2 separate regions of the Homo sapiens genome follow, and region 2 is reported to be linked to region 1. The links are microRNA targets in miRTarBase. Many come from high-throughput screens and were not tested one by one. Region 1 holds a microRNA gene; the other region holds the end of a gene's coding sequence.

Region 1 (5,175 bases):
AGGAGCCTTAAATGCATAGTGCTAAGTAAAATAAGCCATTCTGAAAAGGCTGCATAATGTATGATTCTAACTATATGACATTCTGGAAAAGGCTAAACTATGGAGACAGAAAAATGATCAGCGGTTGCCAGGGGTTTAGGGTGGGGGAGGGGGGATAAATAGGCAGAACTCAGAGGAATTTTAGGGCAGTGAAACTATTCTGTATGATACTATAATGGTCATGCATGTCATTATACACTTGTCAAAACCCATAGAGTATATAACACAAAGAGGGAACTCTAATGTAAACTATGGTTTACATTAATAATTATATTTAAACTATTATTTAATAATAGTTATAATACATTATAATTATACTATTATTTAATAATAATGTCTCAACATTAGCCCATCAATTTTAACAAGTGTACAACACTCATGCAAGATGTTAATAGCGGAAACTGGGGTGTCTCGAGAATATATAACAACTCTATACTTTCCATTCAATCTTTTTGTAAACCTAAAACTGCTCAAAAAAGTCTATGAATTTTTAAAATATGAAAAGAAACTAAAAGAGCCATTTACACATAAGGAAATTTTGATGCTAAAAATCATCCTGTGTAACACAGAAATCCCCCTAGTAATGACAGAATAGAAATTTTAAGTCATTTAAACCAATGGTTCTCAAACTTCAGTGTGCATCAGAATCACCTGGAGGGCTGTTAAAACACAGATTGCTGGGCCCCACCCCTGACTTTCTGATTACCTAGGTCTGAGGTGAGGCCTGAGAGTTTATTTCTAACAAGTTCCTGGAGGATGCTGATGCTGCTAGTCTTGGGCATCAAGAGAGGTATAAAGTCTGATAAAATAAGACTAAGGCTGAGCAGTAACCAAAATGAGATTTTAGAGTATACAAAAGATAAGGAGCACATATTAAATAACCTGAATCTTTACTGCAGGTTAGATTGGGAGAATCTGGGAGAGAAGAAGGACCAAGGATCAGAATCTATAAGTCCCAAATGTTTAAGAACTTGAGGACTGAAATGGAGTGTGTGTCTCTTTCTGTCTCTGTCACCACTATTTATAATACTGTATTGCTACGCTGACCTGAACACTATAAATTTGCAATGGGCAATGAGCAAAAATGATAAGATGGGGAGGAATGAATAGATCAGCTTAGCTAAGAAGAGAGTAACAACTGAAGAATACTGCTGAGGTCACAGTAGAAAGCACTCAGGCTCAGGCGCTAAGGATGGGAGGAGGGGAGTGAATCAGATCATGGGCACCTGTACTCCCTAGGTGAGAGAGAGAGAGAGATGGAGAGACGGACAGAGAGAGCGATAGACTGAAACAGAGACATGTATAGTCCATCTCTATTTGACTAAAGTAAGGTAATATAAAGATATAGGCTGTTCTCATTTCCATATTGTGTGGGGTGCATACAAGATCAGCAATAAGAAGGGTCCCTTGCTCTTCACCCCCTCTAATTCAAGAAGAGTCTGTAATAGACATCTAAAGGCAGCTCACAGTTCTACTCAGGATGTCCTGGAAGATAAAGGGCAGCTTATAAGCTCAAACTCCTATACATTCTGTAAGTGTAAATCTTCATGAATGTGTGCATCTCCCTGTCCTCAGAGGGGACAGAGTGGGGGGAATAGGAAGACTCTCTCTTTGGCCCCCATCATTTGTGCCCGTCTGAATTTTTCTTCTAAAGCTGCCCATCAGAGAGCACATCCAGTGATTTTGACTCTCGTTTGTCACTGCATCCTTAACACTAAAAAGAGTATCTGTCACACTCTAGAAACTCAAGATATAGGAAGGCAAGAAAAGAGACATATATGCACTCAGTCCATATATATACATATAGGTAGGCAAGGCTCCATCTCATTGAATCCTTGGCTTAATACTTGAGACAGCACTCACATCTAGGTTGGAAGGAAGTGAGGGAGCAAATCAGAAGGCTCTGGTTCCCGCCCACCACCCTGTGTGTGGACAGCAGGTGGGGAACACAGAGAAAGCTCACTGTCTCACTCTGGATACCTGCATACATGGACATTATTTAATAAGGACATTTATTCTAATACACAGACAAGCCCACCAGAGCACCTGAAGTCCCTAACTATTCTGTTCTGTGCTTCCCCAACACACACCCATCACTCAAAAACTATGACAGGGGAGGGTGGGAGGGGTGATGTCTAGGCTCTCTGTCCTTCTTGGTACAGTTGAGCTCCCCCTCTCTGAATCCTTGCCCAGGTGCATTGCATTGAGCCAGCACTAGCACCCAGATAGCAAGGATTAGAGAGGGGGAGCAGGGCAGAAGGCTTGGGCACCTGCCGTGCTCGAAGCAGAGAAGGTTCTCTGTTACACAGCTCTGTGTGAGAACAGGAATGAGAGTCTTGCATTGTGTATATGTTGGGAGAGGGTGTCAATAAGAAGTCCCATGTTGTGGCCCACACTAACTCAGCACGTGCAGGAATATTAGGTGACAAAAAGTCAAGTCTCCTACACATATTCTTTGAGGCAAGAACCAAGTCCATCTTGTGTGATACCATATGCCCACTGCCCTGGCAGCACAGCGTTAGCATGTACTAAGTGCTCAATACTTGTGAAAGGGAGGTAGAGGGGAAGGAGAGGGAGGAGGAAGTGTGACTCACAGGCACTTTGTCTGTCTATGGGCAGAAAAAGGCCCCTCTGAGAGTCCTGGAATAGGTGCTGCACTGAGACAGCATGCACATTTAGGTGGCAAGGATACAAGGGGAAGCAGAGCAGCAGGCTCAGGATGTGCACACCACATATATTTGCACAGGTACCCATGTCTGTGGGAGGGAATAAAGAAAAGCCTGATTTCTGGCACCCTGAGCCCATGTATTCACAGGAAGTTGGATGACATGAGGATGCTTATTCTCCATGAGCCTGCTAGACAGTAAGGTCGGCATCTCTGACAGGTTAGTTTACTGTGGCATTCCCAAACAGCAGGAATTCAGTAAATTTGTTAAAGGGATGAATAAATGAATGGACCAAAAACATGCACACACAAATGACTGACTGAAAGAATGAACAAAGGAAAGAGAAGGGATGGACAGGCTCTGTCCTACACATAGGCAAGGCTCACAAGCTGGTATCCTTGCACAAGCCCATTGCACTGCTAAGACAGCACTTGTGCCTAGGCTGCAAGGCTAGGAGAGGGCAAGCAAAAATCAAAGTCCAGGCACCTGCACACCAGGCATGCATCTGAGTGTGTGTGGCAAGGAAACTTGCAGGCAAGTTTAGATAATAAGGCTCCTTCCTTTCAGCTTTGTACAGAAATGTTTCTACACTTACACATGTGTGTGTGCACATGCATGCACAATGTGAGCATGTGTATTCATAAGAGAATGAGAAGGCTCAATTCCTGACACACCTGTGTCTGTTGCCTAGGCCTGGGGAAGTCTAGGCACCTAATACCTCCACTAGATAGGAAGTCCCGGAGAGAGACACTGTCCATTATTTAGCAGGGTACTCCCAGCACAGCTCATGGCACATCAAAAGTGCGCAATAAACACGGGCTACTTGGATTGTTCAGCAGAAGATTCACGATGACAAGGCTCACCCTCCTGTAATCCATGCACACAGGAGGTGTTTTGAGAATTCACAACTCCGATATGCAATGGGTATGGGAGAAGGAGCAGTTCATTCTTCTGCACATGGGAGGGGGGTGGGGGAGGAGAGAGAAAGAAAGACAGAAAGAGAGAAAGAGAGAGAGAGGAGAGAGATTGATTGATTGATTGAGAGAGAGACAGATTGAGATTAAAGTGTCAGGTGCACGCCTGGAGAAGCAGTGCCAAGTCTATTCCCTAATAAAGTACTTGTTGTGTGTTCACTTAGCCTCATGTGCTCACTGAATGTGTGGTTATGGAGGAGGTGGAGACAGTAATGAAATGATGGCTTCCCTGCCACAGTCTGCATGGACTCGGCATTGGGAACGTACATGAGCAATGCAGGAGCTCATTCTCTTCCACCCTTCACCTGACTAGCTTATCACTGCCCCTAGCTAGCACTTATACTAAATCAGTGATTCTCAAACTTAAGTGAGCATCAGAATCAGTTGAGAGCCTTGGTAAAGTACAGATTTCCATGGTTTATGGTGTAGTAGGTCAGGGATGAGCCCAAGAATTGGCATTTTGAACAAGCTCCTAGGTGATACAGATGCTGCTGGCCCAGGGACCACACTGAGAACCACTGCTCTATACATAACTTAAAGAAATGAAATAATGGGACATAGAGGGGTGATGCAAAGACTCTACACTTTTAAACATGGATGAGATTCCCTCTCTGAATTTTTGTACAAGGCAATGGACTGGAATAGCATTTGTACCCAACTACGAAGAATGAAAGAGAGGGACAACCTGAATAGAAGGCTCGAGCATCTTCAAATCCATTGTGTTTGTGTGTATGTACAAAAGAAACAGCACTCTCTGGCTCACAGGTGATTTTCCTATGACCATACAAAGGTGAAGTGTCTTTTCTTCATATGCATGTGTGAGATGACTGACAAGTAGGGCCACTTTCCTTCAAGCTCTGGTGGCATAAGCAGCAAGTAGAAAGCCTATTGCCTTGCACACCAGACATGAGTGAGAAGATGCTGCTAATGACACTCATTATCCTATGCACACTGTGGCTGCAGCTCTGTGTAAGGGGAGACACACCTTTTGTAGTTCTCTAGCTGAGCACTGTTGGGGGGTTGGAGAGGGGATGATGGGAAGACTCACTCTCTGCTACATACGTATGCATGAACAATGTGGGCAACGGAAGTTCCTTCTCTTAAACATGCTCACTAGGCATGTGAGTATGAGTTCTGTGTCTTTCTTGACCACCCTGTCTCTCCATGTCTGGTGCATGACAGGAGCGCCACCCCTGCTTGTTAAAGGTGGGAATGAATGAAGGATGGGGATTATAAACAGGTGTTCTTCGCTCTATGCAGAAAAGGCTCAGCCGTGGAATGCTTGCCTGGGTGCACCGCATTGACACAGCACTTGCATCCAGGTACCAGGATTCAAGAGGGGGAACAGGACTGAAGGCCCAAGCAGCCATACAGAGTATGTGTGTGTGCACGTGTGCGTGTGTGCACATGTGCTCACATGGGTTTACAGGGAAGGCTCACCGCATATAGTGTGTTCATCTGTGACTGTACAGAAAAGTAATGAAAGGATCTCTCCT
Region 2 (5,000 bases), not on the chromosome of region 1:
TGGAAGGGTCCTAGGGTTCCACAGAGCACCCGCTACTGCTCGGAAGGCAGAGCACAGGGAAGACAAAACCAGAAAGCACATCAGATTCTGGAGAGGTGAAGGCGAGTGAGAATGAGGTCTGGAAAAGGTGTAGCAGGGGCAGGGTGGAGAATGAGGATCCCAGGGAAGGGTCAAGTTGTGCTCCCATTCCCAGAGAGCATCACACCTTCATGGGGAGAGTCCTCAGAGGTGGAGGACTGCCCTGGGCCTAGATTTGTTAAATGGCCCTCTCTCCTGCAGAGGAGCTTTCTGAGTACACTGCTTCACCTTCCTGATACATGGGGTTCCAGCCCTGCAGGGCGGGCTCCTTTCTCATCCTAAGGACGGGGACTTCCTGATGTTGCAACCACCCAGTGGGTTCAGCTTGCCTGCTGCCCAGACAGAGCCAATTTATCAAGACAGGAGAATTGCAATCGAGAAAGAGTAATTTACGCAGAGCCGCCGTGCAGGATACTGGACTAGAGTTTCATTATTACCAAATCAGTCTACCCGAGCATTCAGGGATCAGAGTGTTTAAGGACAACTTGGTGAGTTGGGGGGAAGCGAATGAGCCAGGAGTGCTGATTGGTCAGGGTTGGGGGGAAGCCAAAGAGCTGGACATACTGATTGGTCAGAGATGAAATCACAGGGAGTCAGAATTGTCTTCTTGCACTGAGTCAGTTCCTAGGTGGGGGCCACAAGATCAGACGAGCCAGTTTATTGAGCTGGGTGGTGCCAGCTGATCCATCAAGTGCAAGGTCTGCAAAATATCCCAAGTACTGACTTCAGGAGCAGTTGAGAGAGGGTCAGAATCGTGTAGCCTTCAGCTGCATGACTCCTAAACCATAATTTCTAATCTTGTGGCTAATTTGTCCTACAAAAGGAGTCTAGTCCTCAGGCAAGAAGGAGGTTTTGGGAAAGGGCTATTATCATCTTTGTTTTGAACTATAAACTAAGTTCCTCCCAAAGTTAGTTCAGCCTATGCCTAGGAATGAACAAGCACAGCTTGGAGGTTAGAAGCAAGATGGAGTTGGTTAAGTCAGATCTCTTTCATTGTCTCAGTCATAATTTTACAGTGGCGGTTTCAATGTCAGTTACTCCAGCCAAAGCAAGGCTTCACAGCTTTGGGGAAAATAAGCATCCTTATCCAGACCCCAAGAGAGGGTTCTTGGACCTCTCACAAGAAAGCATTTGGGGCGAGTTCATAAAGTAAAAGCCACTTTATTAAAGAAGTAAAGAAACAAAAGAATGACTACTCCATAGGCAGAGAAGCTCTGAGGACTGCTAACTGGCTATTTTTATACTTATTTCTTGATTACATACTAAACAAGGGGTGGATCTTTCATGAGTTTTCCAAGAAAGGGGCAGGGAACTGAGGGTCCCTCCCTTTTTTAGACCATACATAGTAAGTTCCGGAAGTTGCCATGGTGTTTGCAAACTGTCGTGGGAGTGTCCTTCAACATGCTAACGCATTATAATTAGCATATAGTGAGCAGTGAGGACGACCAGAAGTCACTTTTGTCACTGTCTTGGTTTTGGTGGGATTTGGCCGTCTTCTTTACCGCATCCTGACCTGTATTTTGTGATACCCGTCCTGCCAACCTCCTATGACTAAGAATGCCTAACCTCCTGGGACTGCAGCACAGCAGGCCTCAGCCTCATTTCACCCAGCCCCTATTCAAGATGGAGTCTGGCTTGAATGCCTCTGTCACCCCCAGCCTGGCCACAGAAACCACAGTTACAGTTAAGAATCTAGGGTCTAGTGGGCACAGGCCCCCTGCCAGCTGCTGCCCCTTCTTCCAGCCCTCCCGACAGCAGAGGCCTGAGACCTCTGAAGAGCAGGAAGGGAGGCAGCGGTCCCCAGCAGAGGGACAGGGACAGCCCAGCCCTGGGGACACTCTTGGCCTTGGCCTAGGCTCCAACCTGGCTCAGCCCCCTGCTCTGGAGGGGAGCCAGACACCCTGAGGCAGCACTGGTGGCCTGAAGGAGCCAAGTCTTTCAGGGGATGGGAGAAGCAGGCACCTGTGGCTCCCAGGTGCCCACCCAGTACCAGCTGGTCCTACAGAGCCCTTCCGATGCCTGCCTCAGTTACACCTCCCAGAGGCCCCGCAGGTGCACACACACACACACGTATGCACATGCGATGCACGTGTCATGCAAATACATTTATGTTATGTTAGGTTAATTACACAAGCCTCCATGACCTCCCTGTGCTGTGTTAATTACGCCAGCCTCCTGACATACTGACTGCATTTTTATAAGTACATTTTCTTATCCCAACAAACCCCCCCAAAGCTTGACAGTATTTATAAAGTATAGCAAAGCTACATTAAATATTTAGAAAAAGTTACTTTTTAGCTCATCTCTCAATTAAGAAAATTTAAAAAAACAATATTTTTAAAAATCTCTGGCTTGTCAGGCTAAAAACATTTCTATATTAAATAGCTTTATTTTTGCCTTCCAGAATAATGCCATCATGCATTCCAGGGAGAACCCCATTTCTAGAACTCAAGGGTCAAGATTTGGGAGAAATTCCCAGTTCCTCCCTTTACAGCTGTGTGAGGTGCGTGTTTTCTTCATTTAAATCTCCTGTTGGAGATTGAAATGCCCAGAATGGGGGGTAAGCGGCGCTGAGAGGAGGTCTGACGCCAGGTCTCATCCTGACAGTGGCCCGGGCTGTGTGGCTGAGCTCTTTGCTGCCCTAGAAGACTGCCTGGCAGTGAATGGCTGAAGCGTGAGGCCACAGTGCATGTAAAGTCAGCACCTGTCAGTGATTTGTCATCCTGTCTAAAAGCTAGGGACCCAGGTCTACGAGAAAAGAGATGTCTGGGTGTAATTTCCAGGGGCAGCACCCCGTCATTTAGTTATAAACCCTCAGGTTTGACAGCTTGCTAGTTTCTGTCCTGAGGACGGGTCAGCCCCCTGGGTGGGTGGTGTGGCCCCCTCCTGCGGGCCCAGGAAGGAAGGAAGTGCCACGCCCAGGGCCATCCCTGCTTCCCGCTGTCCTGGCTCATCCCAGGCCTCGGACCCAGAGTGAGGAGGGAAGGTGAAGATGGCTGTGTCCTGATCTTCATGGCGCACCCCCTCCAGGAACTCAGAGGAAACAGTGCACTCTCCCCCGAGAAGTCCCAGACACACAGCCCTCTCCATGACTTGTGTAGGGCTTAGACCAGCTAAGACCCAGGACGGACCCTCGTAGGGGAAGGAGGGGGCCCGCGTGAAAAAGCTCAGGGAGGGATCATGGCCTCCTTGGACCCTTCTGGATCCTCTCTGAGTAGAGGGTATAGGACAAGGGCAGGGCTGTTATGAGAGTGATCGGGGACCCAAACAGCCGTACAAGGGTCAGCACTGGCCGATGCTGGGGTGCGGAGCCTCTAAAAGCCTGGTCAGGCTGAGCTGGCTGGGGACCGGGGACAGGGGACCGGTCCTCAGGAGGACCCGGACGTGGTGAGAGGAGAGGGCCAGGTGCCATCCTCAGCAGACACAAGCTCCTGCACTAATACACTTTTCTCTCTTGCAGGCAGCTTGCCTGAGAGAAGCGGGTGGAAGGGGCTTTGGCTTTCTGATTCAATCTGCACTGGGCTAGGCTGCAGGGCAGCTTTGGGATGGACACTCATGGCCAAGAGGAGTGTTCTTCCCTCCTCAGGAGTGCTCGGGTCCCTCACACCTGCCTCATGTAACCACTCTCTCCGTTTTGATGAGGGAGTCACAGGCACACTGCCACTCTTGCTTCGGCTTGTGAGGAAGTAGCGAGCAGATCCCACGAATACCCAGGACAGCAGGCGGCAGGAAGCCTGGGTGACGGGGGAGAGTGAGCAGAGCTGCGGCTACGAGGCTGGGGGCCTTGGACAGGCAACGGCATCTCTGAGTGCAAGAGAAACTTCCTCTCCAATGTGCCTTCTGACTTCCCTGCCATCCAGCTCACAGAGAAGCCCAGATGGTCGAGCCCCAGGAAGGCGTTTAGCCTGCCCAGGGACCTGAGCAGGGCTGCACTCTGAGCCCATCGCAGCTTCAAAGTCTTGTATTTGTCCTTAAGGAAGGTTCCTGCTGGCATGGTCAGGAACACATTCTTACTCATTGTCAAGGAAAGACAGAGGTTTGAGGTGAGTTAATGTCACAAATCTGAAAGGGTTGATTGCGGAAACAGAGCTGGATTTGAACCTCTTCCGCACAGCAAGACAAACCCAATTTAGAATCACGACATGTGTTTCTTTTACAAACCGTAGGGCCAAGCTCCCAACCCTACCCCCCAACCAACTATGTGTGGAGGCGTCCTGACCCTGAGGCCGGCCTGGGCTAGGCAGGTCGCACCTTCATCTCTGACACCTTGTAGCTATAATTGTATCCTTTCCCCGACTTCCAGTTGATGCCATTTGCAAAGCTGCCATGAGTCCCCCTGAGGTAGCGACCATTCAGGTTTGACACATGGCAGTTTTTGTACCACCAAGCTCCCTGAAACATCACAGCACAATTTCCGGTGTTAAGATCATTGTCCTGGTCTTTGGTGGAGAAGGACTGGTTGTTGTGGAACGTCAGGGAATCTCCTGTGCAGGAGGAAATGTGAGCATCGTTACAGGCAGTAACATCATTACAGACAGTATAAGTCTTTATACCTGAGGCCTGGCCTGGTGTGTCCTCCATGTATGGTTAGGCAGGTTGTGCACTGCACAATCCAAGAAGTGCAATCCATGACTCCAGTGAATACTGCCCTGCTGTTGGCAGTGGTCTTGGCAAATTGTCTTTAGGTCTAGCCCTGCCACCTAATGTGTACTATGTTTATTTCACAGAAGAACAGGAGGCAGGGGTCAGGATCATCATTCTCTACTCTGGATTCCATCATGGCAGACCCCTTCCAGCCATGCCCCGCAGAGATATCAGCTGCTGTCACCGTGCATAGGTCCCTGCTCTGCAGAGACTTCCTTCCTACCAGATGCCCTTGCTGGGATTTCTGCAGTCATACACTGATGTGTCCCATGACCCCC

The links. Region 1 holds the annotated microRNA hsa-miR-502-3p (AAUGCACCUGGGCAAGGAUUCA, at 2,218-2,239, opposite strand). A microRNA usually pairs through its seed, bases 2 to 8, with sites in the 3' UTR of a target mRNA and lowers its output. Matches are read on the target gene's strand: a 7mer-m8 pairs with bases 2 to 8, a 7mer-A1 pairs with bases 2 to 7 and ends in A, and an 8mer does both.
Region 2: miRTarBase lists FCN2 as a target of hsa-miR-502-3p. The part of its 3' UTR that is shown has no 7-base or 8-base seed match.

What each region holds. Positions count from the first base shown.
Region 1 is chrX:50,011,713-50,016,887 of GRCh38, reverse strand. It overlaps MIR502 (microRNA 502), which reads right to left and starts at 2,290; the gene lies at 2,205-2,290. All of the region lies in intron 3 of CLCN5 (chloride voltage-gated channel 5), which reads right to left. It overlaps MIR660 (microRNA 660), which reads right to left and starts at 3,647; the gene lies at 3,551-3,647.
Region 2 is chr9:134,886,730-134,891,729 of GRCh38, reverse strand. It overlaps FCN2 (ficolin 2), which reads right to left. Exons shown (of 8, transcript NM_004108.3): 8 at 4,207-4,562. The coding sequence ends at 4,315. Among named protein-coding and RNA genes, the nearest start is that of FCN2, 8.4 kb to the right of the region's middle. RefSeq lists an enhancer at 1,425-1,925.